Homo sapiens: one gene and its partners. The protein of the gene in region 2 interacts with the protein of the main gene of each other region in a pairwise test. Each region holds a gene or a part of one and is shown on either strand. Other genes may lie near its edges.

What was found.
Region 1: the proteins of HIP1 (region 2) and SHCBP1L interact in binary tests that used the Homo sapiens proteins (3 or more experiments, as listed by UniProt).
Region 3: the proteins of HIP1 (region 2) and CDKN2C interact in binary tests that used the Homo sapiens proteins (3 or more experiments, as listed by UniProt).
Region 4: the proteins of HIP1 (region 2) and SPRYD7 interact in binary tests that used the Homo sapiens proteins (3 or more experiments, as listed by UniProt).

Annotation. Positions count from the first base shown.
Region 1 is NC_000001.11:182,949,899-182,958,237, reverse strand, and holds the start of SHCBP1L (testicular spindle-associated protein SHCBP1L), read left to right. Parts: upstream 1-5,071; 5' UTR 5,072-5,104; coding exon 5,105-5,509; intron 5,510-6,248; exon of another isoform or gene 6,249-6,253; coding exon of another isoform or gene 6,254-6,301; intron 6,302-6,770; coding exon 6,771-6,920; intron 6,921-8,339. UniProt on the Homo sapiens protein: Testis-specific spindle-associated factor that plays a role in spermatogenesis. In association with HSPA2, participates in the maintenance of spindle integrity during meiosis in male germ cells.
Region 2 is NC_000007.14:75,532,797-75,540,239, reverse strand, and holds the end of HIP1 (huntingtin-interacting protein 1), read left to right. Parts: intron 1-808; coding exon 809-917; intron 918-2,015; coding exon 2,016-2,068; 3' UTR 2,069-6,942; downstream 6,943-7,443. UniProt on the Homo sapiens protein: Plays a role in clathrin-mediated endocytosis and trafficking. Involved in regulating AMPA receptor trafficking in the central nervous system in an NMDA-dependent manner. Regulates presynaptic nerve terminal activity.
Region 3 is NC_000001.11:50,965,426-50,973,310, forward strand, and holds the start of CDKN2C (cyclin-dependent kinase 4 inhibitor C), read left to right. Parts: upstream 1-4,819; 5' UTR 4,820-4,943; coding exon 4,944-5,072; intron 5,073-7,885. UniProt on the Homo sapiens protein: Interacts strongly with CDK6, weakly with CDK4. Inhibits cell growth and proliferation with a correlated dependence on endogenous retinoblastoma protein RB.
Region 4 is NC_000013.11:49,912,161-49,919,603, forward strand, and holds the end of SPRYD7 (SPRY domain-containing protein 7), read right to left. Parts: intron 6,062-7,443; exon of another isoform or gene 5,933-6,061; intron 5,305-5,932; exon of another isoform or gene 3,001-5,304; coding exon 2,903-3,000; 3' UTR 542-2,902; downstream 1-541.

The DNA of each region.
Region 1 (8,339 bases), on a different chromosome or scaffold from region 2:
CGCTTGAACCAGGGAGGTGGAGGTTGCAGTGAGCCGAGATTGCGCCCCTGTACTCTAGCCTGGGTGACACAGCAAGATTCTGTCTTGGAAAAAAAAAGAGAGAGAGAGAGGAATCCCTTTCTGCTGTTGGGCTTTTATCACTCTAATCGTTGCTATTGTTATTCATCTCCCAAGAGTAAATGGGAAATCTACTTCTCACTCAGTCCATCCTCTTGTACCTGCAGGGAGACTCTCCAATGTTGCTGACTGTTTTGAATTAGCACATTTCTTTGCAGTCCCCCATATCCACCAGGATACATTCCAAGGCCCCAGTGGATGCCGGAAACCGTGCATAGTACCATACCCTACATATGCACCAATTACTTTTTTCTCCTTCACAATTTCACAGATAGAACATTTGTTCTTACCGTAGATCTTCGCAACTTCAGTAGAGAGTTTTTTCTTTTTTTTTTTATTAAGTGGAGAGTTAGTTACTTACTTAGAAATGTTTCTTTTCTTATTAGGTTTTTTTTTTGTTTTGTTTTGTTTGTTTGTTTGTTTGTTTTGAGACAGAGTCTCGTTCTGTCTCCCAGGCTGGAGTACAGTGGTGTGATCTCGGCTCACTGCAACCTCTGTCTCCTGGGTTCAAGCGATTCTCCTGCCTTAGCCTCCTGAGTAGCTGGGACTACAGGTGCCCGCCACCACGCCTGGCTAATTTTTGTATTTTTAGTAGAGACAGCGTTTTACCATATTGGCCAGGCTGGTCTTGAACTCCTGACCTTGTGATCAGCCCACCTCGGCCTCCCAAAGTGTTGGGATGACAGGTGAGAGCCACTGTGCCCAGCCCTTATTAAGTCTTTAAGTGGGAAGCTTTTCTTTTCACTTTTATTTTATTTTATTGAAATATTATAACAAATCATTGAAGAAGATAGTGTTATCATTCCATTCTGATAAAACCAATTAACTTATCCAAGCATGTGCATGCTGTACACAGAAGATCCACCGTTAAAAAGTCCCTATTTTTACTTACTTTTCTTAGATTCAGCGGATACATGTGCAGGTTTCTTATATGAGTATATTATGTAATGCTGAGGCTTGCACTTTTAATGATCCAGTCACCCAACTAGTGAGCATAGTACCAAATACATAGTTTTTCAAGTCTTGCCCCCCTCCTTCTCTCCTCCTTTTTGGAGTCCCCAGTTACTGTTGTTCCCTTCTTTGTGTTCACATGTACCCAGTGTTTAGCTCCCACTTATAAGTGAGAACATGGTTTTCTGCTTCTGTGTTAATTTGCTTAGGATAAAGCCTTCCACCTGCATCCATGTTACTGCAAAAATCTTGTGCCTTTTCACAGCTGTATAGTATTCCATGGTGTATATGTACTACATTTTCTTAATCCAATCCACTACTGTTGGGCACCTGGGTTGATTCCATATCTTTGCTATTGTGAAGTGCTCCAATGGACATACAAGTGCATGTGTCTTTTTGGTAGAATTATTTATTTTCCTTTGGATATATACCCAGGAATGGGATTGCTGGGCTGAATGGTAATTCTATTTGTAGTTCTTTGAAAAATCTCCAAACTGCTTTCCACAGTGGCTGAACTAATTTACACTCCCACCAACAGTGTGTAAACCTTCCTCTTTGCTCCACAATCTCACCAGCGTCTGTGAATTTCTGACTTTTTAGTAATAGCCATTCTGACTGGTGTGAGATGGTAATGGTATCTCATTGTGAAATTCCCTATATTTTTATATGATTCTCAGGGGGTATCATGGGTCTGAATACTGACTCATGCCCTGGGCATGACTTCCACATTGCAGAATTGAGAAGTTGACCCAGAAATGCATTTCAGGCTGAGCAGACAATTATCAGAGGAGCTGGCTAGACCACAGCTGTGGTCAGATGTGTCATAGGGACCATGGCCTTTCTGTAGACTCATGGTCAGAGGTGGAGAGGAGCTGTGAACCTTCTTGTGAAAAAAGTCAAGGTGAAAGCTGCCCCGTGGTGATGGGCGCTGGGCCTCACCTACCACATACTGTGCATCTCCTGGCCTGCTGGGCTCAGTCCCCACCCCACTGCTTGGCACTCGACTGGCAGAATCTGAGTGATGCCTTCTGCACTCCCTGCCCTGCTCTGCCACTGGCTGTGTCTGAGCCAGAGGATCAGTGCTCAGCAGCAGACTCTCCCAAAACCCATCATCTGGGCTGAACCCAGTTCATGAATCCAAATGAAAAGCCGGTGACCATCTGTCACTGGGGAGATTCTGAGGCTGTTGAATACCAGCTGTACTTTGAAGGAAGCCTTTCTGCCATGGAGAGACCAAAACCCCCTGAATGGATTAACAAAGTTGAATTCCACATCCTACTCATGACCTTCCGCACAGCAGGGCTATACAGCTGCTTCTATCTGGCTGGGGAGCTCTGGTCGGAGCCCAGTGACTCTGGATCTGGTGGTAACAGGAGGGAAGATCCAGCCGCACACAGTGCAGATATGGGAATGTCCAGGCGGAGTTCCCCATTGGTCCTGTGACCACAACCCACAGAGGGACATACCGATGTTTTGGCTCCTATAACAACCATGTGTGGTCTTTCCCCAGTGAACTGGCAAAGCTCCTGATCATAGGTGACATTGAGAACACCAGCAGACCCCACCTCTTCTGGCTCTTGGGACACCTACCTTTTAACCAGAGACGGGACTCCAGAAAGACTGTGCCCTCTGAGACCACACTGCCCAGAATCTCCTTCAGATGGGCCTAGCTTTCCTTGTCCTGGTGACTCTGGTGTGATTCCTAGTTGAAGACTGGCTCAGCAGGAAGAGGACTAGAGGGCGAGCCAACAGAGCTTCCACTTGGGATTGCGGCAGAAGGTTGAGAACACAAAGACCCCTTGAAGAATGACCAAGAAACGCAGTGGCCATGGGTGGAACTGAAAGCCGATCTTGAGCCTGGGCATTGGGAGCTCTGTGTTGGGAGAAGGGAGTCATTGTAGGAAAAAGGGACAGTGGTATTCCATTTGTCAAAGCATCCTGGAGGAGACAGGAGGTGGGAGAAACAAGCTAAATTTCTTTGGGAGGCAAAAAAAAAGAAAAAAGTTGTTTTAAAAACTCAGCTTAAGTATCCCTTCTTTGGAGAAGAAAGGTCCTTTTCTCCTACAATGTGGAATATATGTGTATATATATACACACACACACACACACACACACGCATATATATACACACATAAATAAATACAAATTATTTGTGTGTATATAAATATATATATGTATGTATTTATGTGTATTTACATAAATAAAAGCATGGTCCTTACCAAACACAATCATCTACTGACCCATCTGTATCTTTCACTAGGATTACGAGGGCAGGGATTTGGTCTTTTACCTCTATAACTGTGGCATCTACGCATTGTGTGGCATGTAACAGATTTCTAACAAGTATTTGCCTTTTGGAGGAAAAGGGAGCTGTTGCTGTTTTTAAACTTTGGCCCAGGACAGGTGGTCTTTATTATTCAGAACCTAAGAATTAAAAAACCCATAATTTATCAAAAACAAACTTTTGAAGAAACACTAGAGTAAAACATTTGTGTGTGTGTGTGTGAGTGAAATATGCAGTTAGTATTGTTATAAACAAAGTCCAGGACTCAACGAAAGGAATAAAGTAAGAATAGAATTGAAACATGATGCATGTTGTAATTATTCCCTAAACTACAGTAACATGATGTTAATTTTTTTTTTTTTTTTTTTTTTGAGACGGAGTCCCGCTCTTTAGCCTAGGCCGGATTGCAGTGGCGCAATCTCGGCTCACTGCAAGCTCCGCCTCCCAGGTTCACGCCATTCTCCTGCCTCAGCCTCCCGAGTAGCTGGGACTACAGGCGCCCGCCACTGCGCCCGGCTAATTTTTTGTATTTTTAGTAGAGACGGGGTTTCACCGTGTTAGCCAAGATGGTCTCGATCTCCTGACCTTGTGATCCGCCCGCCTCGGCCTCCCAAAGCGCTGGGATTACAGGCGTGAGCCACCGCGCCCAGCCACATGATGTTAATATTTTCCTCAAAATAAACTCAGAATTTAACATAGTGTTCTTCCAGACGAGTGTGAAGGAAGGCAGGTGTTTTCCCAATGCTGTTCTCCTTGGGAGCTGTCAGCTTCAGTGCAGTATTTCACAGCTAGACTGTGAACAAACGTTAATTCCAATTGGCTCAATATACATTCAACAGTAAAATACCAGAAGTGAGTGGTCTCTGTTGTTCTCCAAAATGTATGATCTGGAACAGACTTTTATCGTGAAAGTGTTCATAGTTTGCACACATCACTCCCAGCTGGAAGTTGTTGTCCAGTTTAACAGTTATATAATATAATCTTTTATGTGAGAATTTTGAATAGCACAACAGAGACAAGAAAACAGACTAACTTCTCCTTGGTATGACCACATCTTGGCAAAAAGTGAAAGTCCTATTTAAAATGTAAAGGAAATCCTATTTGGTGAACCCTGTAATAGGTGGGGGCTAAAAGGGAAATCTAGGTTGCTGGATTTGTCACTAGGGTTTCCTCTAGTAATAGCCAGAGGGTTCCAGTTAGTGTCACCTCCCAGTATGAAAATAAATTTTCTTTCAGGCTTTGTTTGTGGAGTGGTAGGTGGAGCATTTTTTTAGGTCCTGATGACCTGGAAGGTGACTCATAATCACCCTGAAACGTATGAGGACCCTAAGGAAACCTCCCCTGGGGGAGACAGAGGGCTGGGGTTAGAGCCATTGCGTTGGGCTCGTCTGGCACCTTCTGGTGTGTGCGGCACCTGGTGGGGGTTCGGCACGGAGCCGCACCCAACACTGACCCGGGCCCCCCCACCCCTGTCCTGAGCCCAGGCGCTTCGCCCTGTCCCACCTAGCTCTGAGCAGCGCCCCCCAGCACCCTGAATGCGTCCGCAGGACCCCGCGCTCTACCCGCAGGCCCCGCACCCCCTAGCTCTGGGCCGCGCCTCACATCCCTCCCAGAGCCGCAACACCCCACCCGGCGGGACGCCCTCGAGCAGCCGCTCGTTGCGGGCCTGAAGCGCAGAGCGCCTATTGGCCAGAGCGGCCGAGGGCGGGAAAAGTGGCCAACGGCTGCCTCGGCCCTCGGGCTGCTGAGGAGATGGCGTCGGGCTCCAAGGCCTCGGTGCCCGCGGACTCATTCCGCACCATCAGCCCGGACAGGCGAGGCGAGAAGTCCGCCTCCGCTGTCTCCGGGGACACGGCGGCCGCGACCACCCTGAAGGGCACCGCGATCCCAGTGCGGTCGGTGGTGGCCTCCCCTCGCCCGGTGAAGGGGAAAGCGGGCCGGGAGACGGCCAGGCTGCGGCTCCAGCGCCTGCCCGCGGCTCAGGCCGAGGACACGGGAGAGGCGGCGGCGGCGGCGGCGGAGGAGCCCCTGCTGCCAGTGCCTGAGGATGAAGAGGAGGCGCAGCCCCTGCCCCCAGTCTGCGTGTCCCGTATGAGGGGGATGTGGCGGGACGAGAAGGTGTCGCTGTATTGCGACGAAGTGCTGCAGGACTGTAAGGTGAGCGGATCCGGGACAGGAAGACTACGGTCGGAAGCTCGTCGGAACCTGGGGACAGGCATCTGGGGCTTCCCTCTTAGGCGGATGGGGATCCACAGGGCACAACGAAAACTTGCGTTTCAAAAAAGTAAATGGAGTCAACATGTATAGAGCGTTCACCTTGTTAGAGGTGCCCGCGTCCTGCCCTAGAGGAGTTAAGGTTCGAGTTTCCGACAAAATTCGTCAGGTAACGGGACAGCCCTGAGAGAGAATTTTCTGAGAGCTCCTAAAAAATGAAGATATATTGGCCTTATCATTGCACAGGCATGAATCTTGGTACCTTTATTTAACAGTTTATGTCCAAACATGAGTAAGATCACTTAGCCTTGACTTTTACACTAGAATGCTAGAAATTACTTTAAGGGTACTTCCCACTCAGCAGTCCACAATGCGGCATGATATATATGTGTGTGTATATATATATATAAATGTGTGTGTGTGTGTGTGTGTGTGTATATATATATATATATATATATATATATATATATATATATATATTTTTTTTTTTTTTTTTTTTTTTTTTTTTTTTTTTTGGAGACGGAGTTTCATTCTTGTTGCCCATGCCGGAATGCAGTGGGGCAATCTCGGCTCACACAACCTCCGCCTCCCGGTGCAAGCAATTCTCCTGCCTCAGCCTCCCGAGTAGCTGGGATTACAGGCATGAGCCACCACGCCTGGCTAATTTTGTATTTTTTTTTAGTACAGATGGGGTTTCTCCAGTTGGTCAGGCTGGACTCGAACTCCCGACCTCAGGTAATCTGCCCGCTTCGGCCTCCCAAAGTGTTGGGATTACAGGCATGAGCCACCGTGCCTGGTGGCATGACTTTCTTTTATAGAAAATACATATCTGATAAAACGGAATAGAGCAAATATTTCATGTTTCTAACCTATTTTTTTAAGTTGTAGCAGAAGAATTTGTGTACCTGCATATTCACTGCAGTGATATTTATAAAAAGTTGAAAATTAAGACATAAACAATAACTAGCTGTCTTATCTATGAATTATTCGAGTGAATAGATCTCTTTTAAGTTTAATTTTTTGTTGGTGATGTTTTCCACTAGATGCGGTTTCAGTTAAAATCTGTAATTTTCCAGGTCATTCATTATTTAAGGCTATATTGGTTCCATTTTAAAATAGAAATCAGTAAAAAAAAAAAAAACCACTTAGTTTAAAATCTATAATTTCATATATTTATATGTAGATCCATTTTTTCTCTTGTTAGGCAGAAGATGCTGATGAAGTTATGGGTAAATACCTATCAGAAAAATTAAAGTTGAAAGACAAATGGCTTGGAGTCTGGAAGACTAATCCCAGTGTATTCTTTGTGAAATATGAAGAAGCTTCTATCCCTTTTGTTGGTATATTGGTTGAGGTAAATAAATTTTATTTGATCTTTGTTCTTTTTGAATCAGTTCTTTTAAAGACTAAAATATGACTTTATTATTTGGAGATTGATACACAAGAGTTGACACATTTTTACTTCTGTTTTAAGTTTCCGAGAAAATTAATAGTGTAAAAAGAAGGTTAGGGGAATATTAGTGCCTGTAAACCATTATCATTAAATGGAATCTAGTAGTATCAGACAATATTTATTAGCCTAGTTTTTGCTCAACTAATGTAAAAATAACAAAAATGCATTTCTTATAAAATTAGTGATTCAGTCTTTAACAAACTTGGGCCTTCTTTTTCTGTCTTTTCCCTTTAATCTTCATTTATCTGAATTAAGAAGTTTAGTTCAGATGAGGAAAAAAAAAGAAATGGATCAGAAAACTACTGGGAAAATTTGAAATTTTTTTCCTTTGAAAAGTACCCTTTTTAGGGAGGCTGAGGCAGGAGAATGGTGTGAACCCAGGAGGCGGAGCTTGCAGTGAGCTGAGATCATGCCACTGCACTCCAGCCTGGGCAACAGAGTGAGACTCCGTCTCAAAAAAAAAAAGTACCCTTCTAGTATAATATCTTCCAAGCCTTTATCTGATAAGATTTTTCTTTTTTTTTTCTTTTGAAACAGAGTTTCGTCCTGTCGCCCAGGCTGGAGTGCAGTGGTGTGATCTCGGCTACTGCAACCTCTGCCTCCCCGGTTCAAGCGATTCTCCTGCCCCAGCCTCCCGAGTAGCTGGGATTACAGGCGCATGCCACCATGCCCAGCTAATTTTTTGTATCTTTGGTAGAGACGGGGTTTAACCCTGTTGGCCAGGCTGGTCTTGAACTCCTAACCTTGTGATCTTTAGCAGAGAAGGGGTTTCACCATGTTGGCCAGACTGGTCTCGAACTCCTGGCCTCGTGATCTGCCTGACTCAGCCTCCCAAAGTGCTGGGATTACAGGCATGAGTCACTGCACCCGGCCCTAATAAGATTTTTCTTTGTTAGGCCTGTAGGCTAAACATTGTGGCATGTTTGATTCTGTTAAAGGTCAATTATCCTTATATAGAAATTAATATTTATAACCACAAATGATACCCTTACCCCAGATAGTTAGTTTAAATCTGTATTTTTGGATACAAGAAAAACTTATGTATGTAACTTGTTGTATTATATACTACTTGAAAACAATTTAAAAATATGTGTTCTGTGGAAAAGTCAGTGTCAGTTTTACAGATAAAGAATGGCGGCTGGGCGTGGTGGCTCACGCCTGTAGTCCCAACACTTTGGGAGGCCAAGGTAGGTGAATCACTTGAGCTCAGGAGTTAGAGACCAGCCTGAGCACCATGGTGAAACCCCATCTCTACCAGAAAAACAGGCACACACCTGTGGTCCCAGCTACTCAGGAGGCTGAGGTGGGAGGATCGCTTGA
Region 2 (7,443 bases):
GTCAGGCTAGTCTCTAACTCCTGACCCCAGGTGATCCACCCACGTTGGCCTCCCAAAGTGCTGGGATTACGGGCATAAGCCACCATGCCCGGCCAGCAAATATTCCTTGAATTAAGAAATAAAATAAATTACATTAATGAGAAGTAGAGCTAGACAAGATCACCCTTTCCTTTATAGTAAGATTTTCCAGGCTTTTTCCTGTAGCAGTAATAAGTGTAAGTTGCACAAATACCTGAAAGATATCAGAACCATCATATTTGCTTCCTACCTGGGTTTCTAGGGAACTGGGATTGAAGAAGGGTTACAACTAGATTGGTACTCACCATACAGTTAGGCTAAACATTAGAGTTGTTTTTAGATAGTGATTTCTCAGAGGAACAGAAGATAAGCCCACCTACCATTTAGGCATTTGTAAAGCATCATTCACTTCCAGTAGAAGATCACAGTGAGTAAAGCATAAGAGCTACTGGGATAGATAAATGAATGGGAGAATGGAAAAATTAGAGCAAAGAAGAGAATTGAAATTGAGGGCCAGATAAAGTATGGAAACGGTGAATAATATGGAAGAAGAGGAATTCACAATGCAGCAGAAAGGGAGTAATCAAAATAAGATAGATGTAGGCTGGGCATGGTGTTTCATGCCTGTAATCTCAGCACTTTGGGAGGCCAAGACAGGAGGATCTCTTGAGGCCAGGAGTTCACTACCAGCCTGGGCAGCAGAACAAGACCCCATCTCTATAAAAAAATAAATAAAAATTAAATCTCTGAGAGATGATTAAGAGAAAATCCCACTTAATTTCCCTTACAGGTTAGGGTGCTAGAGCTAGAAAATGAATTGCAGAAGGAGCGTCAAAAACTGGGAGAGCTTCGGAAAAAGCACTACGAGCTTGCTGGTGTTGCTGAGGGCTGGGAAGAAGGTAAGCTGACTCCAAGGATGGGCACTAACCCGCAGCAGGGAGGGGAAGCTGTGTGGCCAGGGCCTTCCCCTAGAATGGAACAGAACAAGGAACCCACCAGATCGGTGGCTTCTTCCTTCTCTTCTCTCCTCATGGAACCTGTTTTCTCTTCCGTTGTAAATAACCTTTAAGCCTAACTTTGGGTGAAGTTATGGTGATTTGAAAGCTTTTGTTGTCACCTTTTAAGACCTAAACATTGATCATAACTCACTCACTGCCATTCCCTCCCAGGCCCAGCTAGCCTTGCCAACTCCCTGGGAATTTAGTTTCTGGCCAGCAGAGAGTTGAAAAATGAATAAATAGTGGTCAGTCGAGATCTGGCAGACAGGGACAAGTGAATTACAAGGTTCTGTCTATCTAGAGCCAGTGAAGGGCAACAATTGCCAAAAGACAGAAGGGATCAGGTGCTAGGCCGGGCGTGGTGGCTCACGCCTATAATCCCAGCACTTTGGGAGGCCGAGGCGGGCGGATCACGAGGTCAGGAGATCGAGACCATCCTGGCTAACACGGTGAAACCCCGTCTCTACTAAAAATACAAAAAATTAGCCTGGCGTGGTGGTGGGCGCCTGTAGTCCCAGCTACTCAGGAGGCTGAGGCAGGAGAATGGCGTGAACCCGGGAGGCGGAGCTTGCAGTGAGCCGAGATCGCGCCACTGCACTCCAGCCTGGGCAACAGAGCGAGACTCCATCTCAAAAAAAAAAAAAAAAAAAAAAGAAGGGATCAGGTGCTGAGAAATGGAGTGGCATGGAGTCACATTCAGGCTGCCAGCCCAGAGACTTGCCATCCATCACCTCGAGTCTATATGTTGTTGTCTGCATGTCGAAAGCAGTCAACTTGATCACAGCCAAGACTGTTCACTCTTAGTGGACTTGACTGACTCTGGGCACCAACCATAGACAGATCCTAGTCATTCCTAGACACGAAACTTGGGGACTATGTGATTACACCATGGTTATAATTATAATGTATTTTTGAGCCCCCATGGTGGCAGGTTTTGTTGGTTAAGTGAATGAATGCATTCATGAGTGCTTTGCAACATAAATTATCATTGTCTTTTAGGAACAGAGGCATCTCCACCTACACTGCAAGAAGTGGTAACCGAAAAAGAATAGAGCCAAACCAACACCCCATATGTCAGTGTAAATCCTTGTTACCTATCTCGTGTGTGTTATTTCCCCAGCCACAGGCCAAATCCTTGGAGTCCCAGGGGCAGCCACACCACTGCCATTACCCAGTGCCGAGGACATGCATGACACTTCCAAAGACTCCCTCCATAGCGACACCCTTTCTGTTTGGACCCATGGTCATCTCTGTTCTTTTCCCGCCTCCCTAGTTAGCATCCAGGCTGGCCAGTGCTGCCCATGAGCAAGCCTAGGTACGAAGAGGGGTGGTGGGGGGCAGGGCCACTCAACAGAGAGGACCAACATCCAGTCCTGCTGACTATTTGACCCCCACAACAATGGGTATCCTTAATAGAGGAGCTGCTTGTTGTTTGTTGACAGCTTGGAAAGGGAAGATCTTATGCCTTTTCTTTTCTGTTTTCTTCTCAGTCTTTTCAGTTTCATCATTTGCACAAACTTGTGAGCATCAGAGGGCTGATGGATTCCAAACCAGGACACTACCCTGAGATCTGCACAGTCAGAAGGACGGCAGGAGTGTCCTGGCTGTGAATGCCAAAGCCATTCTCCCCCTCTTTGGGCAGTGCCATGGATTTCCACTGCTTCTTATGGTGGTTGGTTGGGTTTTTTGGTTTTGTTTTTTTTTTTAAGTTTCACTCACATAGCCAACTCTCCCAAAGGGCACACCCCTGGGGCTGAGTCTCCAGGGCCCCCCAACTGTGGTAGCTCCAGCGATGGTGCTGCCCAGGCCTCTCGGTGCTCCATCTCCGCCTCCACACTGACCAAGTGCTGGCCCACCCAGTCCATGCTCCAGGGTCAGGCGGAGCTGCTGAGTGACAGCTTTCCTCAAAAAGCAGAAGGAGAGTGAGTGCCTTTCCCTCCTAAAGCTGAATCCCGGCGGAAAGCCTCTGTCCGCCTTTACAAGGGAGAAGACAACAGAAAGAGGGACAAGAGGGTTCACACAGCCCAGTTCCCGTGACGAGGCTCAAAAACTTGATCACATGCTTGAATGGAGCTGGTGAGATCAACAACACTACTTCCCTGCCGGAATGAACTGTCCGTGAATGGTCTCTGTCAAGCGGGCCGTCTCCCTTGGCCCAGAGACGGAGTGTGGGAGTGATTCCCAACTCCTTTCTGCAGACGTCTGCCTTGGCATCCTCTTGAATAGGAAGATCGTTCCACCTTCTACGCAATTGACAAACCCGGAAGATCAGATGCAATTGCTCCCATCAGGGAAGAACCCTATACTTGGTTTGCTACCCTTAGTATTTATTACTAACCTCCCTTAAGCAGCAACAGCCTACAAAGAGATGCTTGGAGCAATCAGAACTTCAGGTGTGACTCTAGCAAGGCTCATCTTTCTGCCCGGCTACATCAGCCTTCAAGAATCAGAAGAAAGGCCAAGGTGCTGGACTGTTACTGACTTGGATCCCAAAGCAAGGAGATCATTTGGAGCTCTTGGGTCAGAGAAAATGAGAAAGGACAGAGCCAGCGGCTCCAACTCCTTTCAGCCACATGCCCCAGGCTCTCGCTGCCCTGTGGACAGGATGAGGACAGAGGGCACATGAACAGCTTGCCAGGGATGGGCAGCCCAACAGCACTTTTCCTCTTCTAGATGGACCCCAGCATTTAAGTGACCTTCTGATCTTGGAAAAACAGCGTCTTCCTTCTTTATCTATAGCAACTCATTGGTGGTAGCCATCAAGCACTTCCCAGGATCTGCTCCAACAGAATATTGCTAGGTTTTGCTACATGACGGGTTGTGAGACTTCTGTTTGATCACTGTGAACCAACCCCCATCTCCCTAGCCCACCCCCCTCCCCAACTCCCTCTCTGTGCATTTTCTAAGTGGGACATTCAAAAAACTCTCTCCCAGGACCTCGGATGACCATACTCAGACGTGTGACCTCCATACTGGGCTAAGGAAGTATCAGCACTAGAAATTGGGCAGTCTTAATGTTGAATGCTGCTTTCTGCTTAGTATTTTTTTGATTCAAGGCTCAGAAGGAATGGTGCGTGGCTTCCCTGTCCCAGTTGTGGCAACTAAACCAATCGGTGTGTTCTTGATGCGGGTCAACATTTCCAAAAGTGGCTAGTCCTCACTTCTAGATCTCAGCCATTCTAACTCATATGTTCCCAATTACCAAGGGGTGGCCGGGCACAGTGGCTCACGCCTGTAATCCCAGCACTTTGAGAGGCTGAGGTGGTAGGATCACCTGAGGTCAGGAGTTCAAGACCAGCCTGTCCAACATGGTGAAACCCCCATCTCTACTAAAAATACCAAAAATTAGCCGAGCGTAGTGACGGGTGCCCGTAATCCCAGCTACTCAGGAGGCTGAGACAGGAGAATCACCTGAACCCCAGAGGCAGAGGTTGCAGTGAGCTGAGATCACGCCATTGTACTCCAGCCTGGGCAACAAGAGCAAAACTCCGTCTCAAAAAAAAAAAAAAATTACAAATGGGGCAAACAGTCTAGTGTAATGGATCAAATTAAGATTCTCTGCCCAGCCGGGCACAGTGGCGCATGCCTGTAATCCCAGAACTTTGGGAGGCCAAGACGGGATGATTGCTTGAGCTCAGGAGTTTGAGACCAGGCTGGGCATCATAGCAAGACCTCATCTCTACTAAAATTCAAAAACAAAATTAGCCGGGCATGATGGTGCATGCCTGTAGTCTCAGCTAGTTGGGGAGCTAAGGTGGGAGAATTGCTTGAGCTTGGGAAGTCGAGGCTGCAGTCAGCCCTGATTGTGCCAGTGCACTCCGGCCTGGGTGACAGAGTGAGACCCTGTCTCAAAAAAAAAAAGATTCTGTGTCAGAGCCCAGCCCAGGAGTTTGAGGCTGCAATGAGCCATGATTTCCCACTGCACTCCAGCCTGAGTGACAGAGCGAGACTCCATCTCTTTAAAAACAAACAAAAAATTATCTGAATGATCCTGTCTCTAAAAAGAAGCCACAGAAATGTTTAAAAACTTCATCGACTTAGCCTGAGTCATAACGGTTAAGAAAGCACTTAAACAGAAGCAGAGGCTAATTCAGTGTCACATGAGGAAGTAGCTGTCAGATGTCACATAATTACTTTCGTAATAGCTCAGATTAGAATGGCTACCCCATTCTCTAGACAAAATCAAATTGTCCTATTGTGACTCTTCTAAAAATGAAGATGAAGAGCTATTTAATGACACACCTTGGATTAAAACGGGAATCACATCTTAAAGCTAAAAATGAACCTGCAAGCCTTCTAAATGAGTCACTGAGCATCACTAGTGACAAGTCTCGGGTGAGCGTAAATGGGTCATGACAAGATGGGACAGCAACAAAATCATGGCTTAGGATCGACAAGAAGTTAAAAAACAGCTGCATCTGTTACTTAAGTTTGTAAGACAGTGCCCTGAGACCTCTAGAGAAAAGATGTTTGTTTACATAAGAGAAAGAGGCCAGACATGGTGTCTCACACGTTTAATCCCAGCACTTTGGGAGGCAGGGGCGGGTGGATCACCTGAGGTCAGGAGTTCAAGACTAGCCTGGCCAACATGGTGAAACCCCGTCTCTACTAAAAATACAAAAATTAGCCGGGCATGGTGGCAGGCGCCTATAATCCCAGCTACTGGGGAGGCTGAGGCAGGAGAATCACTTGAACCCGGGGGACAGAGGTTGTAGTGAGCCAAGATCGCACCACTGCACTCCAGCCTGGGTCACAGAGTGAGACTCCATCTCAAAAAAAAAAAAGAGAGAGAGAGAGAAAGAAATAGAAGAGAAGAGCCATCTTGGCAGGGTTATTTTATATCTGAGCAAGGAGTTTAAATGAGACTAGTTTAGATTGTCTGCTGATGCAGCCGTCCATAGCAGTACCCCTAAAATCCCACCAGAATACGGGTCCCTCTAACCCAGTGGCTGGAAGAACCACTGTCTAGAGCAACTTTTCTTGGAACTGTCCCAGCTACCAAGTCAGACACCAAGGTTTATGCCACCAGGTAACACGGGAATCACAGGTACATGTCGCTCCGGTCAGATTAGTTGGCTTTGGCCCCTCGACCCTGTGCAGGAGCTAGTTCTCAGCTTGCAGCTGGAAGTTCCCTCTTAGCTCCTTAGTCTAGAGGGGTCTCCTGGCTCCATTTGACCCTGGTCTTTAATAACCGGTCAGCATCTTGCTACCTTCTACCACCTTTCCAAATCTCTGGAAATCCTGCCAGGGAAAGCCTCCAGTTCCAACATTGGCTTTCCAAGCAAACTGGCTTTGCCCTCTCTCTGCCATCCTTGTCCTCCAGAGACTGCACCACCTGTAGCATAGAAAACCACCACCACGGACCTGCCAGCCATCGGCGCAGCAAACCAGCCAGCTGTTTGCTGCCAAATTCCTTCCTCTCCCAGGTCCAGACCAAATACAAGATCAGCACCACACCGTGGTGTTGTCAGGAGCCAAAGCAACAGGAAACAATTCAATGCTGTTGGGTTCGATTCTGAGAGTAGATTTTTCCAGACATGTCTTTCAGGTGACCCTCAACTACCTCAGGTTTGAAGGCCCTAAATGAAACTGATTACCACTCATAGGGACAAACCGAGGGGGTTCGGTTACATCTTGGTGATAATGCAGTTGTCTCAAACTTATAACAGACTCTTTCACATTTCAGTTTGCAGGGATAGGGTTGGGTTTGTTTTTCTTCTGTTTTTAACCTTTCCCCTGGGTTTCCATTAGGGTAGTTCCTTGAAATGAATTTCATTTTTCACTGAGTGCCTACCTTCCCAGGGCAGGTGGCCACTGGCTTCTGTTTCCCTCCAACAATACTTTTATTATGGTATTAAGACCTTTCTTTGTATAATACATTGCATCTGTGTTTTCAATTTTTCAAATAAATATTTCCGCCTGGCAATGGAGCGTGGTGGTGATTGACCAGCCAGCGTGGCTCTGAGGTATAGGCTCCAGTGAGAAGCCTGCATTTGTATCCTGGGGTTCATGGAATCCACTTAGCCCCACACCTCTGGGAATATATCTTAGAAATATTAGTTTTGAGCCGGGTGTGGTGGCTCACACCAGTAATCCCAGCTCTTAGGGAGGCAGAGGCAGGAGGATAGCTTGAGCCCAGGAGTTAAGAGACCTGCCTGGAAAATATAGTGAGAAGCTGTTCTCCACAAAAAGGAAAAAAAAAAAAGAAATATTAGTTTGATATTGGGCATGGTGGCTCATGCCTGTAATCCCAGCAATTTGGGAGGCTGCAGTGGGAGGATCACTTGAGTGCAGGAGTTTGAGAGCAACCTGGGCAACACAGCAAGACCCCGTCTACAACAAAATTAACTGGGAATGGTAGCATATGCCTGTAGTCCCAGCTACTTGGGAGGCTGAGTCAGGAGGCTCAGTTCAGCCCAGGAGGTTG
Region 3 (7,885 bases), on a different chromosome or scaffold from region 2:
GGTGGAGGTTGCAGTGAGCCGGGATCGCGCCACTGCACTCCAGCCTGATGACAGAGAGAGACTCTGTCTCAAAAAAAAAAGAACTTTCAGCCTGGCCAATATAGTAAGACCCCATCTCCACAAAATTAGAAAAATTATCCAGGCATGGTGGAGCATGCCTGTGGTCCCAGCGACTCCAGAGGCTGAGGTAGGAGGGTCACTTGGACCTGGGAAGTCAAGGCTTCAGTGAGCCATGATCATGACCAAGCCACTGCACTCTAGCCTGGGCAACAGAGTGAGAACCTGTCTCAAAAATAAAATAAAATAAAAATAATAAAAAATTTTCATAAATAAGTACCTATATGAAAAAAACCACTGAATCTCAGAAATAAAATGCTGAAGCTACAATTATAAAGTCACATAAAAGGCTGCCTGGGGGTGCCCAGTCTGTTTTCCACCTCTGTTGATCTATAAATACAACAAAAAGGAAAACTTTGAGACCAGTTAAATAAATGGTAAATACCACATACACATTTCCAAAAGTTAATCATTCAGAAACTGTACCTACTTGAGTCAATGAGGGAAAAGCACAGAATAATTTGACTGAATCACATTTCTATTCTATGTCAATGAGGGAAAAGCACAGAATAATTTGACTGAATCACATTTCTATTCTATGTCTCTTTTTTTTTTTTTTTTTGAGACTGCTGGGCCGCCACTGCCTCCCAGGTTCAAGCAATCCTCCTGCCTCAGCCTCCTGAGCAGCTGGGATTACAGGCGCCAGCCACCACGCCCAGCTAATTTTTTTTTGTATTTTTAGTGGAGTTGGGGTTTAACCATGTTGGCCAGGCTGGTCTCGAACTCCTGACCTCAGGTGATCTGCCCACCTCAGCCTCCCAAAATGCTGGGATTATAGGCGTGAGCCACTGCGCCCGGCCACTTCTATGTCTCCTTAAATGATTATGAACTGCTGGAGCAAAAGGTTTCCATGACTGTTAATATTTAATATCTAACTATAAAGGCTATATTTCAGTATTTGATGTACTTATCATTTTGATGTTAAAAAGGAAAGCACCACTCTCAATATAGTAGAAACTTAACTATGAATTTTTCTTGTAAGCCATGTTAGAATATAAGCTTATTGAGGGTAGAGATACCCTTGAATCTGCTGTAGTGAACTAGCCCTCAATAAATACTAGATTTTCATTGGAGTTACTGTGTAATACTTATGTATGCCTTCTGAACTAAGACCCTAAGCTCTGCACTGCCAATTCTGGTTTACCCAACAGGCAGATGAAGCATATGCTTCAGGGCACCAGCAAAACCAGAATGTTAAAAAAAAAAAAAAAACCTTTGCCAAATAATTTAATATCTCAGCAAAACCACTGAAGTAGCCATCATGGGAAAAAAATCAGAACTTTGTTGGACTTTTTTACTGTTATTTTGGGGTTCTGTTATTTTTCTTTTTATTTCTATATAAGGAAGAGGTGGTAGAACATCAAAATCTTTTCAGTGCTTAGGGCCTCCAAAAATCTTAATACAACTCTGTGTACATCTTAAATTATCATAAGTTTTCCTTAGTTGTTCAGCAATAAGCATTTTATTTCATGAAAATTATAGTACGTTTACCCGTACTTTATGTAATCATACAATTTAAGATTCTTCCTCTTTACAATTTATCTCTAAGCAAGAAACCATAATAAATGCTAGAAGGCAATCCTCATAAATTGGACTAATACCAGTTCTCTTTTATCAGCCAACAGTGCTAATATGTCCTCACACCCTCTGGCTGTATGAAAAGATTACACAGTTCCCAGAATAATCAAAAGTAAATTATTATTTATTTCTTACTGGTATAAATGGAATCTTAAATGTTTCTATTTGAAACGTCTACATATATGTAAGAAAAAGAGAGTTAATTTCTTGTTTTGTAGTTCTCATTTGATTCACAATTCAAGTTTAGTTACCTAAGAAAAGAACTCTAGTTTTTTTCTCAACAATTACATTAAAGAAAACACTGCCAGATTCTTCCCAGTTTCAACTTTCCCTCTACCTACCAATCTCTTGCTGGATGATTACCCAGATATTTCTGGTGTGTTTTGTTGCTAATACTCCCAGTGTACTTCAAGAAGGGTACAGATACTGCTTGAGGATCCGCTTGCCAAAGGCCGGTTCTAATTAGACTTGTCATTTTTTGCTTGGTTTCATTTTGACCACTGGGTGCATCATGCAACCGTGTTGGATATTTTTAAGAGTATAAAAATACAGAAAGCAATAGTTAATTAATCTCACATAGCTAAAAGAGGAAGTTAAAAGTACTGGAAATTGGTGTCGGATGATTAAATAAAGGATTAGGAGAGAGACCATTCTAGACACCCTCCCCAACCCCACATCCCCAAAATCCAAGCCACTTCTAAGTAGTGAGAGAACTTCGGCAACCAAGAAATGGCTTTGTTAGAAAACACTTCACACGACTTATTTTAAATTTTGCTTTAAATTTAATTGCTTTTCTCCTTTTTCTCTAATAATAGGACTATTTCGCAGTTTCCAGTCCTTGATTAATTAAGGCTTCAGAGTTCGTTCTTACATATGCCATGTCTTAAGTTTTCATAAAATTCAGTCTACACAAGACTTGCTTTTTGTGAGCACTGTGCTTAGTGGCAGTCCGGATTTTTCCCTCCACCCCCGCGGCCACCCCTGCCCACCGCGCCGTCGGGCATGGATCTGGCAGGTGCGAGGCCGAGGCCAGGGCTCAGCGAAGGACGCCGAGTTTACAGAGCGCGCGCGCCTAGAGGAGGCAGCAGCAGCCGCAGCCTGGCCGCCCGAACTTTGCGAGCCTGGCGGGGGAGCACAGAGGCGGGCCGACCTGCCCCGCTAGCGCTGAGGAACGACTCCCTTTATGCCAGCTCGCTGTCCGCCTTCCCGCAGCGTACGCTGCGGAGCCTCAAAGACCCTGCGGCCCTCCACAACCGTCTTAAATAACAAACCCCTGTCCTCGCCCCCGTAGGAATTGGGGCAGCTGGGGGTTCGCGTCACAGACTCAAGCCCGCCAGCAGAAGGGCAGGCCGGACTTCGCGGGGCCGAACCCCGCTCCAGCTGGGGACAGGCCGCCTAGCCGGCAGGAGGGAGCCGGCGCGAGAGACTTGACGGGAGGAGGTGGAGAGCGGGAGGCGGGAATGAGGGCGCGGGACCGGGCGGGCGGAGCGTGCGAGACTGCGAGCGCGAGCGCCAGCAGGGCGGAGGGCGGGGCGTGGGCGGCGCCCGGCCTTCCCGCTCCCGCGGCGCTGCAACTCTGCCGAGCCTCCTTAAAACTCTGCCGTTAAAATGGGGGCGGGTTTTTCAACTCAAAAAGCGCTCAATTTTTTTCTTTTCAAAAAAAGCTGATGAGGTCGGAAAAAAGGGAGAAGAAACCGGCACCCTCTCTGAGAGGCAACAGAAGCAGCAATTGTTTCAGCGAAAAAAGCAGCAAGGGAGGGAGTGAAGGAAAAAAGCAAAAAAGGGGGCGACACGCAAGTGCCTGTAGGGGTGAAAGGAGCAGGGACCGGCGATCTAGGGGGGGATCAGCTACAAAAGAAACTGTCACTGGGAGCGGTGCGGCCAAGGAGGAAGCAGTGCTGCCAGGCTCTGCTCCAGGGCACAGCTGGCTGGCGGCTGCCCTGTCCGCAGCAAAGGGGCACAGGCCGGGGACCGCGAGAGGTGGCAAAGTGGCACCGGGCGCCGAGGCTGCTGAGCGCTCGCCGAGACGGCGACCGGACTGGCTGCCCCGGAACTGCGGCGACTCTCCCTACTCAGAACTTGGCCTACGTTTCCCAGGACTCTCCCCATCTCCAGAGGCCCCCACAAAACCGGGAAAGGAAGGAAAGGACAGCGGCGGCAGCAGCTCAATGAGTGCCTACAGCAGAAAGCCTGAACGAGCTCGGTCGTAGGCGGGAAGTTCCCGGGGGGGCTGCCCAGTGCAGCCGCAATGCTGCCGCGAGCTGCCCCAGCAGTCCGGGCTCCGTAGACGCTTTCCGCATCACTCTCCTTCCTCGGGCTGCCGGGAGTCCCGGGACCTGGCGGGGCCGGCATGACGGGCTTCTCGGGGGCCCGCCGCACGCCCGGCAGCCTCCGGAGACGCGCGCCGAGCCCGGCTCCCACGGCCTCTGAGGCTCGGCGGGGCTGCGGCTGCCTGGCGGGCGGGCTCCGGAGCTTTCCTGAGCGGCATTAGCCCACGGCTTGGCCCGGACGCGACCAAAGGCTCTTCTGGAGAAGCCCAGAGCACTGGGCAATCGTTACGACCTGTAACTTGAGGGCCACCGAACTGCTACTCCCGTTCGCCTTTGGCGATCATCTTTTAACCCTCCGGAGCACGTCAGCATCCAGCCACCGCGGCGCTCTCCCAGCAGCGGAGGACCCAGGACTATCCCTTCGGCGAGACGGATGGAAACCGAGCCCCCTGGAGGACCTGCCCCTGCAGTTCTGCCTCACACGGCTCAAGTCACCACCGTGAACAAGGGTGGGTGAATGCCTTTTCTTCCCCCTGAATGTCTTTCCTTCCGCGGTATTTTCTGCCCCGATCTATAGTCCCTTGAGTCTCCACACACACTCCTCACAGAGATCTGTAGCGTAGGTACGTGACAGCTCTGCCTACATCTGACGTCCGGAGTCATTAACCAGGAATGTATGTGTGTCTGTGTGTCTCTCTGTGGAGTCGTCAGAATTCTTCATAGGGGTTAAGCTAAAAAAGCGAGGCGAGGAGCCCCTCTCCAATGGCTCAGTTTTGCTGAATAATCACGTGTGAATCGAGGGGCGGGCTTTTGGCAGGCAGATCTTACTAGTATTTACTACCAAGCTCTACTCCAGATTAACCATCCCAGTCCTTCTGTCAGTCTCCGATGCCATCATGCAGCCTGGTTAGGAGCAAAGGAAAGGGGAAAAAGAAAAACGACTAATTCATCTTTTCCTGATCGTCAGGACCCTAAAGAATGGCCGAGCCTTGGGGGAACGAGTTGGCGTCCGCAGCTGCCAGGGGGGACCTAGAGCAACTTACTAGTTTGTTGCAAAATAATGTAAACGTCAATGCACAAAATGGATTTGGAAGGACTGCGCTGCAGGTTGGTATTAAGAGAGGTGGGGAAAACAAGTCAATAATGTTGCCTACGTGACCCGGGTTTCTAGATTTACAGCTTTTAAGCTTTCAGGGACATAAAATTTCACTGTTTTTAAACCTAGTTGGTTGCCATATTTTATATCTTTAAGTGGATGCAACTTCTCAAAATGACGTACTTTGAACAAACTCCTCAAATCCAATAACATCCTTGATATCAAGTGGGGTCCAGATTTGGTCTTAGTTTTTGGAATGTTTTTGTGACGGTGGGGATTTTAAAGTAGTCAGTGTAGGGCCGAGGTTTGTTTGTTTTGTTTTGTTTTTAAAGACAGCTCTGTAAACACATTATTATGATTATTATTTGAAGTAAATACACTGCTATTAGTGGTTTTACGTACTTTGCCCCCAATAATAGACTTTAACGTTAATTTTCTTGACTACTGATGAGGGTGTTTTTCCTTCAAATGCTTCAAGTTTTGACAAACGACCTTTCCTCGTTTGGAATGGGTGGCCTGGGCACCGGGACAGGATGTACATTTTACAGTTAATGTAATACCATCCACTCATTCAGGAGTCGGGAGGAATAAAAAGTTGAATTTTCTAATCAGAGCTCAGCTGCAGTGTCTTTGTCTCTACGGTCATGCCGTGGTGTGCTCTAATTTTCAGTAATTAGATTTACAGGCAACAATTGACACATGTCCAGCTGCCAAGTATTGTACCTGATAATTTTTTTCCTCTTCTGAATGTTATCATGTAACTTAGGTGAAAGGCTTAGAAACAGAAAAATGACAAAATAGTTTAAAATAGTTGCTTTATCAGAGTTCTGATGATATTCTTATGAGCTATTCTTATTTGGAAATGCAACACTTGAAGCTGTTTTTGAAAACCCAGTGGGGAGAGGGTTTTTAGAGGGCTTTGTTTCGGTTACAAGAATTAAAAATTTAAGTGCCAAGAGATATACTATTAACAAACAAAGTCCATACAGTCTGTACATTTTCAGTCAGAATACACTGGCCTTGCAAAAATTTCAGTATTAAGGAAGTTTATGCACAGATACTAAATTATTTATCTTGTTATTGCTGCTACATTAAGTAATGATTTTTTTTCCTTTTTCTACCTAGTAGTTTTGAACAGGTTTAGTGATGATAGCAAAGTAACAAATTTAATATATTGAAAAGTTTCCTTTTGAAAACTCAAAAGATTATATAAACTTCACAAAGAATGAACTACTTAACCCATGTTCATGATAAGATTTTACAGGATTTTTGACGAACAGGAAGACTGGGAAATTAATAATATTCTTTTAAAAAGTTTTGACAAACATTTTTAATACAACTTTGCAATCTTGTTTATATTAAACATACTTATCAAGATACTAACACCCACTTATTGTGGCTTAGTCCTTGTACATATAACGAAACACACACACAGAAACTGGAGTTTCAAGGCTTATTTTCAATATGTATAATCCTGACTCTGAAGTTGTGTCATAAGTCAAGAAATAACTTTCTTCAAAACCGTTTCCAATATTGCTATTATTTTCTGTGAAAAAAGGTGAATTTTCTTCTACAATTATGTTTATTTAACTCAATTTCAAAAGCCTTTTCCACCTTCCTAGTGTACATTTTTCTATCAGGTTAATATCAAAGGCCTTAATCGTATGTTTGCTTTACGAAGATCCAAGGTATCTGTCTCTTATTTTTCTCATTCCAGGTCCTTAAATATGACTAAATCTTTAGGGACAGTTGTGGTCGTATCAATTTTTAATAACCAAAAAGTATGTTTCATTGAAGTTCTTGAAATATAAATTATGTATCACTGTTTACCACTGCTCCAAAGGAAGAGCTAAAAATCAACAGTTTTATCAACAGGGGAGCTTAATATCTTGTCCATCTATGTAGTTTGCATTTACAAAATATTACTCATTTTAAATATATTTTGTTATTTAATGTGTGATTAGATTTTTTTAAACAAACATTTAAAAAAGATAGAACGACTTTGTATTTTCCATTAGCATTTAATTTCATAAACATTGAGTGTCTATTATACAAGATATTTATTATAAATTTAGATTATTATGGATATACCTAGATATAAATAAACCAGTGTAAATTCTGAAAATGTGTGGCATGTTAATGAAAGTAATATTTTTTCACAACTAAATTATATGTATTTTATATTTGCATGCTGTTCTACAAGATACTTTATAAGAGACCACTGTTAGAGTGAAATATATTCAAACAATAGTAGATAATCTTTGTTATGTGAATTATTTGTATGTTGATAGCAAGTGTTAATACCACATTCTGACTTTTAAAATGTTGGCAGTTTACAAATAGCTGTTCCTTAAATGCTTGATAATAACTGAAAAAGGAACTAACACAGGATCACCAGTTGATTATTAAATGAGCTCAAACCACAAGACAAGGCTGTCCGTGTCCCAAAACACCCATTAAATATCTTATTTTTTCTTCTTTTGCTCATTTGAAAATCAGGAGGCTTGTCAGAACTTTGAGAAACAGTATATAATGTAATAGGGTGACTATTTCATTATTTTCAAGAACAGTTGTCCTACAATAATTTCCTACTGTGATACAAGGCATATCAGGAACTTAGTTTTATATAAATTGATATCATAAGCAATTTAGAACACTGTGGCTTATTTAACACCTTAATAATCAGTACTGTTTTGTAACTTAAAATGAAGGATTCTAAACATTGAATACACCTAGTAGCCAATATTAAATAACTTGCAAATAAAAAATATTTTTAAGAAATGCTTGGAAATTTGGAGCTATATCTATTTGGAGGGAACTTGTA
Region 4 (7,443 bases), on a different chromosome or scaffold from region 2:
TGTGGAAGGACGGCCAGCTCAATGTAATTTTCTTAAGATAAATTTGATATGTATGGAGATAAAAACACACCTAGATTTCACCAAACTGTTGTCATGGACATAAACTTCAGTATCATTTTTAGTACTATGTCTCTGTTGTATAATTAGAGGCAGAAAAGAATATGATTTTTCAAAAGGTTGGCTTAAAAAAAAATGAGAGGTAGAGGCCGGGCACAGTGGCTCATGCTTGTAATCCCAGCACTCTGGGGGGCCGAGGCTGGCGGATCACGAAGTCAAGAGATCGAGACCATTCTGGCCAACATGGTGAAACCCCGTCTCTACTAAAAGTGTGAAAATTAGCCAGGCGTGTTGGCGTGCGCCTGTAGTCCCAGCTACTTGGGAGGCTGAGGCAGAAGAATTGCTTGAACCCGGGAGGTGGAGGTTGCAGTGAGCTGAGATTGTGCCATTACACTCCAGCCTGGTGATAGAGCGAGACTGTCTCAAAATAAAATAAAATTAAATTAAATTTTAAAAGAATTTTAAAAAGAGGTAGATAACATCATAACGATAGCAAACAGTAGTCACTTTAATTTGCTTTCCCAAGTAAGCACATTCTTTACAAATTAAAATTATGATAGAAAGCCAGACAAAATGCATAATACATACATAGTTAAATTTCATATACCTTCAGAGGTAGAATTTGGGATTTATGTAAATAAATGTTACTCAAGTATATCTATGTTTTCAAAGCATATTGTCACATTTTTGTCTGCAGAATAAACAATAAAAAAGGATTTTGCAGGATTCTCTGAGCCTATGGGTCAAAAATAGCCCATCATAAATCCTTAGAAAATTTACAGTAGGCAAATAATTCTCTACTGAATGGCAGTTCTCAAACTGATTTGGTGGGTCTGGTGTGGGTTCTGAGAGTGTCCATTTTTAACAAGTTCCAGTGATGCTGATGTTGCCGGTCTGAGAAGCATCATGAGAACCACTTTCTGGCTGGGTGTGGTGGCTTACGCCTATAATTCCAGCACTTTGGGAGGCTGAGGGAGGTGGATCATGAGGTCAGGAGTTTGAGACCAGCCTGGACAACATGGTGAAACCCCATCTCTACTAAAAATACAAAAATTACACGGGCGTGGTGGCGGGCACCTGTAGTCCCACCTACTCGGGAGGCTGAGGCAAGAGAATCGCTTAAACCTGGGAAGCAGAGGTTGCAGTGAGCCAAGATCGTGCCACTGCACTCTAGCCTGGGTGACAAGGTGAGACTCTGTCTCAAAAAAAAAACGAGAAAAAAAAAAAAAGAAAGAAAACCACTTTCCCTGATACTTTACCATCCAGGAAACTACACTTACTAAGTGCCTATGATTTTTATTTTATTTTATTTTAATTTTTTTTGAGACAGAGTCTCACTCTGTTGCCTAGGCTGGAGTGCAGTGGGGCAATCTCGGCTCACTGCAAGCGCCGTCTCCCGGGTTCAAGCCATTCTCCTGCCTCAGCCTCCAGAGTAGCTAGAACTACAGGCGCCCGCCACCACACCTGGCTAATTTTTTTTGTATTTTTTTAGTAGAGCCAGGGTTTCACCATGTTAGCCACGATGGTCTCGATCTCCTGACCTTGTGATCCTCCCGCCTCAGCCTCCCAAAGTGCTGGGATTACAGGTGTGAGCCACCGCGCCTGGCGCAAGTGCCTATGATTATTAAGGTGTTATATATGTATTACCTTATTTAATCATAGAATCTTATGTCAGTATGATTGCTCCTTTTATAAATGGGAATCTGAGACTTGGAGAGGAGAAAATAGGATGAGCAGCAAAACTACAATTTGGATCTCTTTCTAATTCTAACACTCATGTTTTCCTGAACAATGTACTGTTTCTAGTTGATAAAGGAGGGAAATGTATGCATCCTTGCCATGCTCATTTGAAAACAGACAACGTATCTAAAGATGTATAGAGTGATTGGTTCAGGTCACAGGGCGTTAACTAAAGGACAGTGATTCTTAAGAACCAGGCAAAGACTCAGGGTCATGAAGAGGATTCACTTATCTCTGAACTGAAATAATCACGGGTGATGTGAATTTAGTGTATAACTAACAAAATAGGAAGAATGTGTTTAATATAGTATGGTATATTCCTTAATTACAATTATTTTATTATTCCTTACAGAAAACATACAAATAAAAGTCCTTAAAAGAATAACCTCATTTAAATGTAAAGCATCATACTATTCTAGATGTCTGCCAGTGTATACTACATTACTAATCAACCACTACTTACTCTGAAATTGAGGTAACACAGCCTGAGGCAACAAAATGCTCTGACAATTACTGAAACGTTTATCTCCTTTCACAAAGCAAATCAAAAGCAATGACATTACACAACAAAATAAGCAATTTAAGTTTTAAGAAAAGCGGTACATGATACAGAAATAGACTGCCAAAAATGAAATTGCCAGTAATATAAATTTCTCTCACTTTGTTATATTGTATATAAAAAAGGACACTAAGCGGCAAAATTATCCAACTGTAGATGTCAAATATTTAATGAGGTCTAAACTTCAGAGTGACAAAAACACCCACCCAACTCTACATCTCTATCAAAACAAATATATTATGTAAGAAAGAATTCCCTTTAAATATATATGTATATATAGTCATGTTATACTGTTAATTAAACCCATAATTCTATTTATTTAAATAAGAATTAAATAAACTGCCCAAATGCTTATTTTCATTTCACAAAACATAAAGTATTTTAAATCACAACTTCAGGGTGGTATACTGAATACATTGGTTCCTTAGACAGCATCAACAAGCATATTTTTAAGAATATATTTTCATCTATAGGCCAGGTAAAGTTTTATTAAATGATGAACATTTTTTAACAGTGCAGAAATACAAGTTTTAAAAACAAATACATTCAGAAGATTTGCTGTTCAAATAATATTTTTTCAAAACCAGGTGGAGGCGTATGATAAAACTCACTGAACTGGCAATCCAAAATTGCACTGTCATCAACTAAAGGATACAAAAAGAAAGAAAATAAATTAGAAGCAAATACTTTAATTTCAATGAATACATAATTATAAAATAAAATAAACTGTCTCCATAATACTACAATATTAATAGGTAAGAAGAATAAATATATCTGCTGTCCCTGTTACAAAACATAATCCTATGGGTAAAAACAGCCACAACAAAAATCAAAATCTATCTGTCAAAAACATTGGAAGGATATATATAAAAATATTATTAGTAATTCTCTCAAGAGGATGTGAATATGGGTAATTTTTTTCTTATTTGCTTATCTGCATTTTCTCAATTTTATATAATTAAGACATATTACTTTTTAAAAAAATGTTTAACTTTGAAAAAGTATAGATTCACAGGAAGTTGCAAAAATGTTAAGAGTCCAGTGCACCCTTTGTACACTTTGCCCCAGTGGTAACATCTTACATGACTACAGCTCAACATCCAAACCAGGAAACTGACATTGGTACACTACTGTGAACTAGACTGCAGGCCTTACTCAGCTTCTAAATGTTTTTACCGGTATTTACTCAAGAGAAATGAATGTGTATATCCAAAGACATATTTTCAAACGTTCACAATAGCTTTATTTGTAATAGTCCCACACTGGAAACAACCCTAATGTCCATCAACTGGTGAAGGATAAAGAAATTGTGATATATCCACACAATGCTACACTTCTCAGCAATAAAAACTGATGAATTATTGATATATGCTACAGCATAAATGAATCTTCAAATAATTGTGCTGAGTGAAAGAAGCCAGACCAAAAGAAAAGACCATATGATTTTGTTAATATAATACTCTAGAAAATATGGGCTAATCTGTAGTGACAGAAAGCAGATCAGTGGTTGTTTGGTTGGGGCTGGGGTAGGGAGTGGTGAGTAGGATATAAGAGGCAGAAGGAAACCTTTGGGGTGGTGAATATGTTCATTACCTTGACCCTGGTGATGACAAAACAAAACATGACCGTAAAGCAAAGCAAGTAAATAATCAGCACTGCCACCCAATAGTGATTACTCCCCCTGGGTGAGGAATGCAGCTGTGGTGCGGGCTGCATCTGGGCCAAGAAAATGTTCTATTTCTTGATCTAAGTGGTAATAATGTGAGTGTTCACTTGATAGCTATTTGTTAAATTGCACATATAAGTTTAATGCACATTACTATATACTTTATATTTCAGCATAAATGCAGAAAAAAATGTAAATACTGGATTTGACATTCATGAAGTCACCAGTGATTTTAACAAGGGTGGTTTCAATTAGTGGTGTAATGGCAGCTGAATTGGGTTGCAGAACAAACGAACAATAACAATAAAGGTGTCAAATGCTCTACCCTTGAGCTAGTCAAGTAATCTATACAACAAACCCCCCACCGTGACACCAGTTTACCTGTGTAACAAACCTTCACATGTACCCCCGAACCTAAATGTTAAAAAAAAAAAAGAAAGAAAAACAATAAAGATGGCAGATATAGGTTATTCTAGAAGAAATGTGGCCATCCAGGGAAGGGGAAACACAGGACTAGTGAGGGATGCATGCCCAAAGAAGGGCGTTTGGGATGGGGCTTAGAATGTTTATAAGCACTGAAGAGGGAGGCCCATGACATGAGATATCGATGAAATAACTGACAAAGTGACGTTCCAGATTTGGGGAGTTTGGAATCCAGACTACAGATAGAGTGTTTGCAACATGCAGAGTACCACTTCTGGGATGAGATGGAAAGAAGGCAGGATTGGACCTGAAGAGAGGGAAGCTGGAGTTCACTTGTGATTGCCTGTTTTTTTTGTAAGGTAGAAGGCAAGGCATTTTCAGAGGATGAATAGAGAATGCAAGAAGCACAGAATGCATAGACATGCACAAAGAATTGCTGAAAATTATTGAGAGCTCAGATTAGGCTAGAAGTCATAACTTTGTTTTTTTTTGTTTTGTTTTGTTGTTTTCTTTTTTGAGACAGAGTCTCGCTCTGTCACCCAGGCTGGAGTGCAGTGGCATGATCTCGGCTCACTGCAAGCTCCGCCTCCCCGGTTCACGCTATTCTCTTGCCTCAGCCTCCCAAGTAGCTGGGACCACAGGCACCCGCCACCACACCCAGCTAATTTTTTGTATTTTTAGTAGAGACGGGGTTTCACCCTGTTAGCCAGGATGGTCTCAATCTCCTGACCTCGTGATCCGCCTGCCTCAGCCTCCCAAAGTGCTGGGATTACAGGCGTGAGCTACTGCGCCCAGCCAGGAAGTCGTAACTTTGTAACCACACTTCTTCAGTGTTATGCAGTCTTTTTCTTTCTACAGGCTGAGTGTAAGAAGAGACAAAATGAATGATTGGATTGATCAAGGATTAGGGATGGAAGACAAAAGAGTAAAGGGATTTAAGTTTTATGTTTATCTTTGATAGGATCAGGCTATTAAAACACTTGGTTTAATTGGACTGATTTATGAGTTCAATTTATGAAATATAATTTAGTATCTATAACCTTAGTACATTACAAATAATGCTGAATAAAAGAAACAGTTTAGAGCATTAAACTTATTTGCTACAGTTAACTTGTATAACTGTCACTCTACTGATATTTATTTTATTTCTCAGGCTAACCTATTTCAAATATCAAGCTAAATTTCCATTTACTCAAGTAAATAAAGGAATTGCTTTTAGGCTTACCCAATATGCAACACTAAATTGAGTTTTAAAACACACATTTACATGCAAGGACACAGAAGGTAAAATGACTGAAAAGTAATTTTAGGAGAAAAGAAGGCTAATGAAAACCTTAAACTAAAAGGTAATCACAAGCTTTGGCTATTATCATATTATTATTTATATTTGTTATTGTATAATTCTGACATCCCAGTTTGTCATCATTGATACTGCTATTTTTATTTTAGTATTTTAATTTTATTTTGCTTTTGAGACAGGGTCTTACTCTGGTGCCAAGGCTGGAGTGCAGCGGCACGATGATCACTGCTCACAGGAGACTTGACCTCCCCGGCTCAAGAGATCCTCTCAGCTCAGCCTCTCAAGTAGCTGGGACTACAGGCACGTACAACCACACCTGGATAATTTTAAAATTTTTTGTCGAGACGTGTTCTCACTATGTTGCTCAAGGCTGGTCTTCAACTCCTGGACTCGAGCAACTCTTACCTCAGCCTCCCAAAGTGCTGGGATTACAGGCATGAGTCATTGCACCAGTGCTGCTTTTATAGTAAACTACAACAAATGTAATTAAATTAGTTCTTTTTTTTTTTTTTCTTTTTTTTGAGATGGAGTCTTGCTCTGTCACCCAGGCTGGAGCACAGTGGTGTGATCTCGGCTCACTGCAACCTCTGCCTCCTGGGTTCAAGTGATTCTCCGCCTCACCCTCCTGAGTAGTTGCGATTACAGGTGTGTGCCACCACACACGGTTTCACCATGTTGGCCAGGCTAGTCTTGAACTCCAGACCTCAAGTGACCCACCTGTCTTGGCCTCCCAAACTGCTGGGATTACAGGCATGAGCCACCGTGCCTGGCCTAATTAGTTATTTTTCTTTCTTTTTTAATTTTATTTTATTTTATTTTTTTTTGTGGAGACTAAGTCTTGCTCTGTCGCCCAGGCTGGAGTGCAATGGCATGATCTCGGCTCACTGCAACCTCCATCTCCTGGGTTCAAGTGATTTTCCTGTCTCAGCCTCCCATGTAACTGGGATTACAGGAGTGCGCTACCACGTCTGGCTAATTTTTTGTATTTTTAGTAGAGATGGGGTTTCACCATGTTGGCCAGGCTGGTCTCAAACTCCTGACATCAAGTGATCCACCGGCTTCGGCCTCCCAAAGTGTTGGGATTATAGGTGTGAGCCACCACGCCAGTCCTAATTAGTTCTTATTATAACCCAAATTTAAGAACTTAAATGAGAAAATATTTTTAGACTTACAAAACCAAAGGCAGAAAAATCATATACCTGTTTACTTAAAGTTGATAATACAAAATAGGCTGGACACGGTGGCTCATGCCTATAATCTCAGCACTTTGGGAGGCCGAGGTGGGCAGATCACTTGAGCTCAGGAGTTCGAGATCAGCCTGGCCAACATGGTGAAACCCCATCTCTAGTAAAAATATAAAAGTTGGCCAGGTGCTCACACCTATAATCCCAGCACTTTGGAAGGCCGAGGCGGGCAGAACAGAAGGTCAAGAGATCAAGACCATCCTGGCCAACATGGTGAAACCCCATCTCTACTAAAAATACAAAAATTAGCTGGGTGTGGTGGTGCGTGCTTGTAGTCCCATCTACTCGGGAGGCTGAGGCAGGAGAATCGCTTGAACCTGGGAGGCGGAGGTTTCAGTGAGCCAAGATCGTGCCACTGCACTCCAGTCTGGCGATGGAATGAGACTCTGTCTCAAAAAAAACAAAACAATACAAAAAAACCCCAAAAGTTAGCTGGGTGTGGTGATACACACCT